2 linked regions of the Homo sapiens genome follow. The gene in region 1 interacts genetically with each later gene. Each region holds a gene or a part of one and is shown on either strand. Other genes may lie near its edges. The genes, in order: RRAS and ASPM.

What was found.
Region 2: changes in RRAS (region 1) and ASPM together harm fitness more than expected from each alone (negative genetic interaction), as found in Homo sapiens cells (one study listed by BioGRID).

What each region holds. Positions count from the first base shown.
Region 1 is NC_000019.10:49,638,424-49,642,342, forward strand, and holds the start of RRAS (ras-related protein R-Ras), read right to left. Parts: upstream 1,721-3,919; 5' UTR 1,676-1,720; coding exon 1,523-1,675; intron 1-1,522. Other genes in the region: SCAF1 (splicing factor, arginine/serine-rich 19), read left to right, coding at 2,100-2,102. UniProt on the Homo sapiens protein: GTP-binding protein with GTPase activity, likely involved in the regulation of MAPK signaling pathway and thereby controlling multiple cellular processes. Regulates the organization of the actin cytoskeleton.
Region 2 is NC_000001.11:197,139,961-197,143,879, reverse strand, and holds part of ASPM (abnormal spindle-like microcephaly-associated protein), read left to right. Parts: intron 1-69; coding exon 70-1,549; intron 1,550-3,919. UniProt on the Homo sapiens protein: Involved in mitotic spindle regulation and coordination of mitotic processes.

The sequences.
Region 1 (3,919 bases):
ATTTCTTTGAAGCTGGGAGGACCTCCCTCAGGAATGGGGAGGAGGTTTCCTGGGCTGGGGTGGAATTTCAGGAAAGGGGGTGATGTGGAGGCTAGGGGTCTGAAGGCTGCATCTGTCGGTTAGAGGGGTGCTTGGTGAGGGGCTTGTCCTGGAGGGAGGCTGTAAGGATCAAGCCCTGGGAGGGATTGTGGCTCTGGGGGTAGTTAGGGGCGTGACCTCAGAGCACAGCGTGAGAAGCTCAGGGCTGAGAACTGGGAGCCAGCCCGGAGGTGGCTCAGGGGTTTTGGGAGGTTATAGTATATACAGTCTTAGAAACATTGAGTTCATTTATGGGGTCAGAGAAACTCCCAAGGAATAGATCTTTCTGGGGGTGCCAAGAATCTGGGGGCTTCTTCCATGGAGATGATTTGAGAGCTATTCAGGGTTTCTGAGAGGGGCTCAGGGAGTTGCAGCGGAGAAAGCATGGGATGGAGGAGGGGCTGGTTTTCCTTGGGGGTGGGGTGGGAGAGTGGAGGTTTGGGCCTCCGGGAATGGGGGATTGTCAGGACTTGGGGTCTTGGAGATTTCTGGAATGGCCAAGGGGCAGGATGTCTTTTTAAATCTCGGGTCGGAGAGCAGGACTCTCTTAGGACTGGGTAGTCCCAGAAGAGTCTCAGGGCCAGGGTCTGGGTAGAATTTCTAGATTCTGGGGGCAGTCATGGAAGGGGCTAAGAATCAAACGTGGGGCCGGGCACGGTGGCTCATGCCTGTAATCCCAGCACTTTGGGAGTCCAAGGCAGGCCGATCACGAGGTCAGGAGTTCGAGACCAGTCCAATATGGTGAAACCCCGTCTCTACTAAAAAATACAAAAATTAGCCAGGCATGGTGGCACTCGCCTGTAGTCTCAGCTACTTGGGAGGCTGAGGCAGGAGAATTGCTTGAATCCAGGAGGCAGAGGTTGCAGTGAGCCAACATCGCACCACTGCACTCCACCGCACTCCAGCCTGGGTGACAGAGTGAGTGAGACTCTGTCTCAAAAAAAAAAAAAAAGAAAAAAAAGAATCGAACGTGGTGGAATCTCAAAGGTGCTGGGCACTGGCATTCTCCCAGGAAGGCTCTCAATGGCTTAGAGGGGAAGTTGGGGACTGGGATTTGGGGGAGATAGGGCTCAGGGTGGTGGAAGGTGGCACCAAGGGCGTGGTGGGGGTCCTGGGAGTGCTTAGGGTCCGAATGGGGTGAGTATTTTGTATTTAGCATGCTCCCAGGAGGTGCTCAAAGCCAGGTCAGCAGGTAAGCGGGGTCTTAGGCACTGGGAGAGGGAATAGTGGGTCTCGGGATGCGAGTGCAGAAGGAAGGGTCCCCCGTGCAGGGGATGGAGGCTCTCCAAGAGTTTAGGTTACAATCTGTGGGGATCTTTTAAGATTAGAGGGCCTTATAGGAGGGTCTCAGTGATGGGTCAAGGGGGAAAAGGGGTCTCGGGGATCCCCCCAAGGGCTCAGTTCTGGGTCCCGGGGGACACCCTCCCGGGTGAGGGCCCACTACCTGGATGAACTGGATGGTCAGCGCGCTCTTGCCCACGCCGCCGCCGCCCACGACCACCAGCTTGTGTGTCTCGCTGGGCGGGGGGTCCCCGGGCCCAGGTCCCCCGCCCCGGGGCCGCCCCCGCCCTGTCCCGGACGCCGCCCCGCTGCTCATGTCGCCACCGCTGCTGCTGCCTTCGCTACCGCCTGCGGGGGAGCCGGGCGGGACCCGGGGGGGCGGGCTACGCTAATGAGGCTACTGCATAATCATGAGCTCTGGCAAGGAGGGCTCGCGTCTCCGGACACTTAAGGAGGGGGACGGGCCAAAGAAAGGGAGGAGCTATGTTAATAAGGGAAAGGGAACGGCGTTCGCTGCGAAGGGGAATTCCGAATGAGGCGGGGCTATGCTAATGAGAGACCTGTGCTTTGCCCTGAGCGGCGCCACGCGCTCTCAGCGGGAGGGCGGTCTGTGGGCGTGGCTATGCTAATAAGAATTTATTCTTTCAGCAGACGGGGCGGAAAGTTCCTCAGGGGAGGGGCTATGCAAATAAGGACCCCTGTGACACTGCTGCTTGGGGCATCGTCTCCGAGGCCTTAGTATGGTAGGCGGAGCTCGTCGACTCGCGCGCGCGGCCGTATATAGGGCGCTCCGAGGAAGCAGCAGGTTTTGAGGAGTAGCTCCACCTCCCTCCTGGGATCCTAGCCAAGCTTTCGACCCCGGCGTCTGGGTTAGAAGCTAGAGTCTCCGCCCGCTAAGGGACCCAGGCTTCCGGTTCCCGCTGTCCCAGCCAAGCGGAAGACAGACTGGGAGGAGAGTGGGGCCCTAGAGGGGGACAGCAGGGTAACGGGGCAGGGAGGGGCCGTGAGATCACTGCATTCCTAATCCATGAGCCAGCTCGCCCAAGTAGGGATGCCTGGGTCATGAAGAGCCTGGGGCCAGGATTTCTGGGTCTTGAAGGAGAAGGAAGCAGAGGGCCCAGACTCCTGGGTCCTTAGGAGAAAATGGGGCTGGAGATGTGGACTCCTGGGTCCTGGGGAGGAGGGTGTCAGGGAGGAAGGTAGACAGGTTCCTTCGTACTAGGTTCGGTAAAGGAGGGAGCCGGGGGCCTGGACTCTTAGGTCCAGGAATTGGAGAGGCTGGGGACCCAGGATTCTGGATCCGAGCGAGGGCACTGGCTTGGGGGGACCCGAATTCGTATGTGAGAGCTTGAGACCAGGACTAGTCTGGGAGACCGACTCTTGGATCCGAGGAAGGAAGAATCAGACTCCTGAGTCGGAGGGAGGAGGGAAATAGGAGTCTGGACACTGCTCTGAGTGAGAGGATTCGGAATTCAGACTTCTCTGTACTGAACGAGGCGGCTATGGGGTCGGGCTTCTAGGTTCTAAGTTTATTTTTATTTGTTTATTTTTGAGACGGAGTTTCCGTCTTGTAGCCCATGCTGGAGTGCAATGGCGCGATCTTGGCCCACTGCAACCTCCGCTTCCCGGGTTCAAGCGATTCTCCTACCTCAGCCTCCCGAGTAGCTGGGATTACAGGCGTTAGCCACCACGCCAGGCTAATTTTTGTATTTTTAGTAGAGACTGGGTTTCACCATGTTGGTCAGGCTGGTCTTGAACTCCTGATATCAGATGATCCGCCTGCTTCGGCCTCCCAAAGTGCTGGGATTACAGACGTGAGCCACCGCGCCTGGCCTATTTTTATTTTTTTAGAGGCGGGGTCTCCCTATATTGCCTAGGCTGGCTTCTAACTTCTAGGCTCAAGCCATCCTTCCGCCTCAGTCTCCCGAGTGGGACTACGGTGTGCGCCACTGCATCCCGTCTGGTTCTAAATTTAGGGGGGCCTAGAGGATCTGGATTCTGAGAGCCCCAGAATGTGGGCAGCACAACATCCAGCAAGTCGTGCTCACTCCGCCGGACTACAATTCCCTTGCGTCTGTTCTGCCTGGCGCCTCTTACGTCACCTCCTGTTCCGCCACCCTTTCCGCGCGCGCGCAGGGCACTGTGGGGCGTCATCGCGGGCTACCGCGGCCCCGCCCACTTCACCTCTCACCCCATTAGCTGTCCCCGCGCGACAGAGGCGGTGCGCGGACTACGCCTCCCGGCGTGCATCGCGCGGACCCCGCCCCATGTGTCCCATTGGCTTCTGGGAAACCGAGTGCGGTTGCCTTCCCGCCGGCCTTCACGTCGCCGTGCTCGGTACTTGAAATCCCGGCAAGCTCGGCGGCGCTTTAGCTCCGCCTCTCTCCTCCTTTGCTCACGAACCCCGCCCCAGCCCGCCCCGCCCCGCGCCGGGGCCGGAGCCGCAGCCCGAGCGGCGGGGTAAGATGGCGGCGGCAGTCCGGGCCGCGGGGCTCGGGCCTATTGGGGTGGGCGGGGCGGAGTTGGGTCGCTAGTTGTCCCGGGGTCCTCCCCACAAGCC
Region 2 (3,919 bases), on another chromosome or scaffold:
GAAGTAATATTGCTTATTTAATATTCAATAGCTACAAACTTAATTGGTATATTTTCCTTATTTTTGCAGAGGAGTCTTTGGGATACCATTAAAAAGAAGAAAATTTCAGCCTCTACAAGTCACAACAGAAGGGTTTCAAATATTCAGAATGTTAATAAAACATTTAGTGTTTCCCAAAAAGTTGACAGAGTTAGGAGCCCACTACAAGCTTGTGAAAACTTGGCTATGAATGAAGGCGGTCCCCCAACAGAAAACAATTCTTTAATACTTGAAGAAAATAAAATACCCATATCACCTATTAGCCCTGCTTTCAATGAATGCCATGGTGCAACTTGCTTGCCACTCTCTGTACGTCGATCTACTACCTACTCATCTCTTCATGCATCAGAAAATAGGGAACTATTAAATGTACACAGTGCCAACGTTTCAAAAGTTTCTTTTAATGAGAAAGCTGTAACTGAAACTTCCTTTAATTCCGTAAATGTTAATGGCCAAAGAGGAGAGAATAGTAAACTTAGTCTTACCCCCAACTGTTCTTCAACTTTGAACATTACACAAAGCCAAATACATTTTCTAAGTCCAGATTCTTTTGTAAATAATAGTCATGGAGCTAATAATGAACTAGAATTAGTAACATGTCTTTCATCAGATATGTTTATGAAAGATAATTCACAGCCTGTGCATTTGGAATCAACAATTGCACATGAAATTTATCAGAAAATTTTAAGTCCAGATTCTTTCATAAAAGATAATTATGGACTAAATCAGGATCTAGAATCAGAGTCAGTTAATCCTATTTTATCCCCTAATCAATTTTTAAAAGATAACATGGCATATATGTGTACATCTCAGCAAACATGTAAAGTACCATTATCAAATGAAAATTCTCAAGTCCCACAGTCTCCTGAAGATTGGAGAAAAAGTGAAGTTTCGCCACGTATTCCTGAATGTCAGGGTTCAAAATCTCCCAAAGCTATTTTTGAAGAACTAGTAGAAATGAAGTCAAATTACTACAGTTTTATAAAACAAAATAATCCTAAATTTTCTGCAGTTCAGGATATTTCTAGTCATAGCCACAATAAACAACCTAAGAGACGTCCAATACTTTCTGCCACTGTTACTAAAAGGAAGGCCACCTGTACCAGAGAAAACCAAACTGAGATTAATAAACCAAAAGCAAAAAGATGTCTCAACAGTGCAGTGGGTGAACATGAAAAAGTAATAAATAATCAAAAGGAAAAAGAAGATTTTCATTCTTATCTTCCAATTATAGATCCAATATTAAGTAAATCTAAGAGTTATAAAAACGAGGTAACACCCTCTTCGACAACAGCTTCAGTTGCTCGGAAAAGAAAGAGCGATGGAAGCATGGAAGATGCAAATGTGAGAGTTGCAATTACAGAACATACAGAAGTGCGAGAAATCAAAAGAATCCATTTTTCTCCCTCAGAGCCTAAAACATCAGCTGTTAAGAAAACAAAAAATGTGACAACACCCATCTCAAAACGTATTAGCAACAGAGAGAAATTAAACCTGAAGAAGAAAACTGGTGAGTCTTGTTTATAAAATCTACTGAAGTATACCTGTAAAGGGGATACTTCCTTTTGGTTTAGTAAATCTGCTATTGATAAGCTTGTATTATAGTTTTTACTTATTTGCTGGGTACATTTCCTTAGCAAATGTGAATACAGCTTATGTGACATCTTGTATCTGTCTGATTTTTCTTTGCTTTTGCTGTTTCTTGTAGATATGTTCTGATCAGATAACAAATTCTTTGATAGTAAGGAACATACCTATTTTAATCTCCTACAAGATGTACAATAAAAGATGAATTGAATGAATGGATAAGTGAATAAATGAACAAATAAACCACTGAAAGGTCGACACTCACACCTACTGTTTGTTTGAGGCAGCCAGCTGGTTGAGCCTCTAGTCTAGAATCAGAATTGTACATATTGGGTATCTGATTTATGAGCCTATGTGAGAGGCAAGTAAGTCACCAAGAGTGGCTCTTTCTACCTCTTGACAAATCTAAGGGAACAGAGAAGGCAATTTTTCTAGATATATTTATTTGACTGATAAGGTACCTACTATGTGATGTGCATTTTTCTAGGCACTGTGTACACAGGGAGGAAAGGGATAATTCCTGTCCTCAAGTTGCGTTCAGTCCTGTGATTATGCTATGCTTAGGAAATTAAGGAAGCACAGAAGCAGAGGGTTTGTGTGTAAATTGCAAGGAAGTATGAGATGGTTCCAAGAAAGACTTCCTAAAGAAGAAAATGGTTGCAGGGAGAGGGACTAATTTCTGTAAGGTTTAAGAATGAGGAATTTCTCCTTAGAAATTTACTTTTTAAATGTTCAATTCATAGAACCTTACAATCTAATAAGTATTATGTTGCAATTTAGTCATGTTCCTTATTTTCACAATTGATATAGGTTTGAGATTACTTTAAAACAAGGGTAAGCAAACTGTTCCTCTACTGGTCCAGATAGTAAACATTTTAGGCTTTGCAGGCCATATAGATTTGCACTGCAATTACTCAACTCTGCTGCACTTGTGGGAAAACAGCCATAGACAATGTGCAAATCAAGGAGTATGGCTGTGTTTCAGTAAAATTTTATTCATAAACACCGAAATTTGAATTTTATGTAAGTTTTGTGTTTTATGAAATATTATTATTTTCATTTTTTTTTTAACTCTTTACAAATGTAAAAGCTATATTTAGCTCTTGGAACATACAAAAACAGTAGGGAGGGTTTTGCATGGGGAATGGATGTAGTTTGCTGACCCCTGCTCTTATTGTCTCTTTGCTTATATTTAGTAGCAGTATATTTTGTTGTGAAACCTGTTTTTGAAAGAGTGAACTGCTATTCCAATAGGTTATTTGCTACTGCAATTTGTATTGCATTTTCTTTGATAGCCACCTGGCATTATATCAACCATCTTGGTTACATATTTGGGAATCAGCCTGTTATTCTCTATCACTTTTCTAATAAGTTGGTATTAAGGGTTGTTTCTTCCACTATTAAAATAACTCTCCTCTGATTTGTCTCCATTGACTCTGTTTTAATTTGTCTCACCATATCCACCTTGGGTCATTGTAATAACTGCTTTGTAATTTTCTGTTTCTAATCTTGACCCTGTTCATTCCATTGTCCATACTGTTTTCTTAAATATAAATGAGGGTTTTTACTTCCTTGATTAAAATTCTTCACTAGCATAGAAGGTGCTTCAAAGTGATTAATAGTGGAGGTTCTGTAACTATACTGCCTTTGTTCAAATCTTTGCTACTTACTAGCTTATGTGACCTTAGACCATGTGGCTTAATTGCTCAAAGCCTCAGTATCCTAATTATATACATTGTGGTAATAATAGTACACTTCTCATAAATTTGTTCTCATAACTGTGTGAGAAAAAGATTATGATAGTGCCTGGCACAAAGTATTTAAGTATTAGCTGCCACTATTATTTTGAATATTATTGAACTCCTCCCTACCTCTTCTAGCCTCTTGTATGTCATTTCCTACGTGTATTCTTTGCTTCATCCTTATTGCAGTTCTGGCAACAGGCCACATTCCTCATGCCTAATTTTAATTTCATAAGTTAACTCAAGTAGATTCCCATCTGGGAAGGCTCTTCTACCATTTTTAAACTTCTTTTTTTACCAGACTGAGAACTACTTCAGGGCTGAGACCATATTTTTCAATTCTGCATATTCTCAGCACCTCGTAGAGAGTCTGGAATATACAGACACAATAAGTTTTGGTTGAATCTAGACTTTAGCCTCTGTAAACACAAAATAAATTGTGGTTTATGGTCTGTGACTTCTGGATGTTGGTTTGATAAACCACTGAATTCATAGCATTAGTGCGTGGAGTACAGTGGTTATTAAGTGTTTGCTAAATGAATATGATTGTG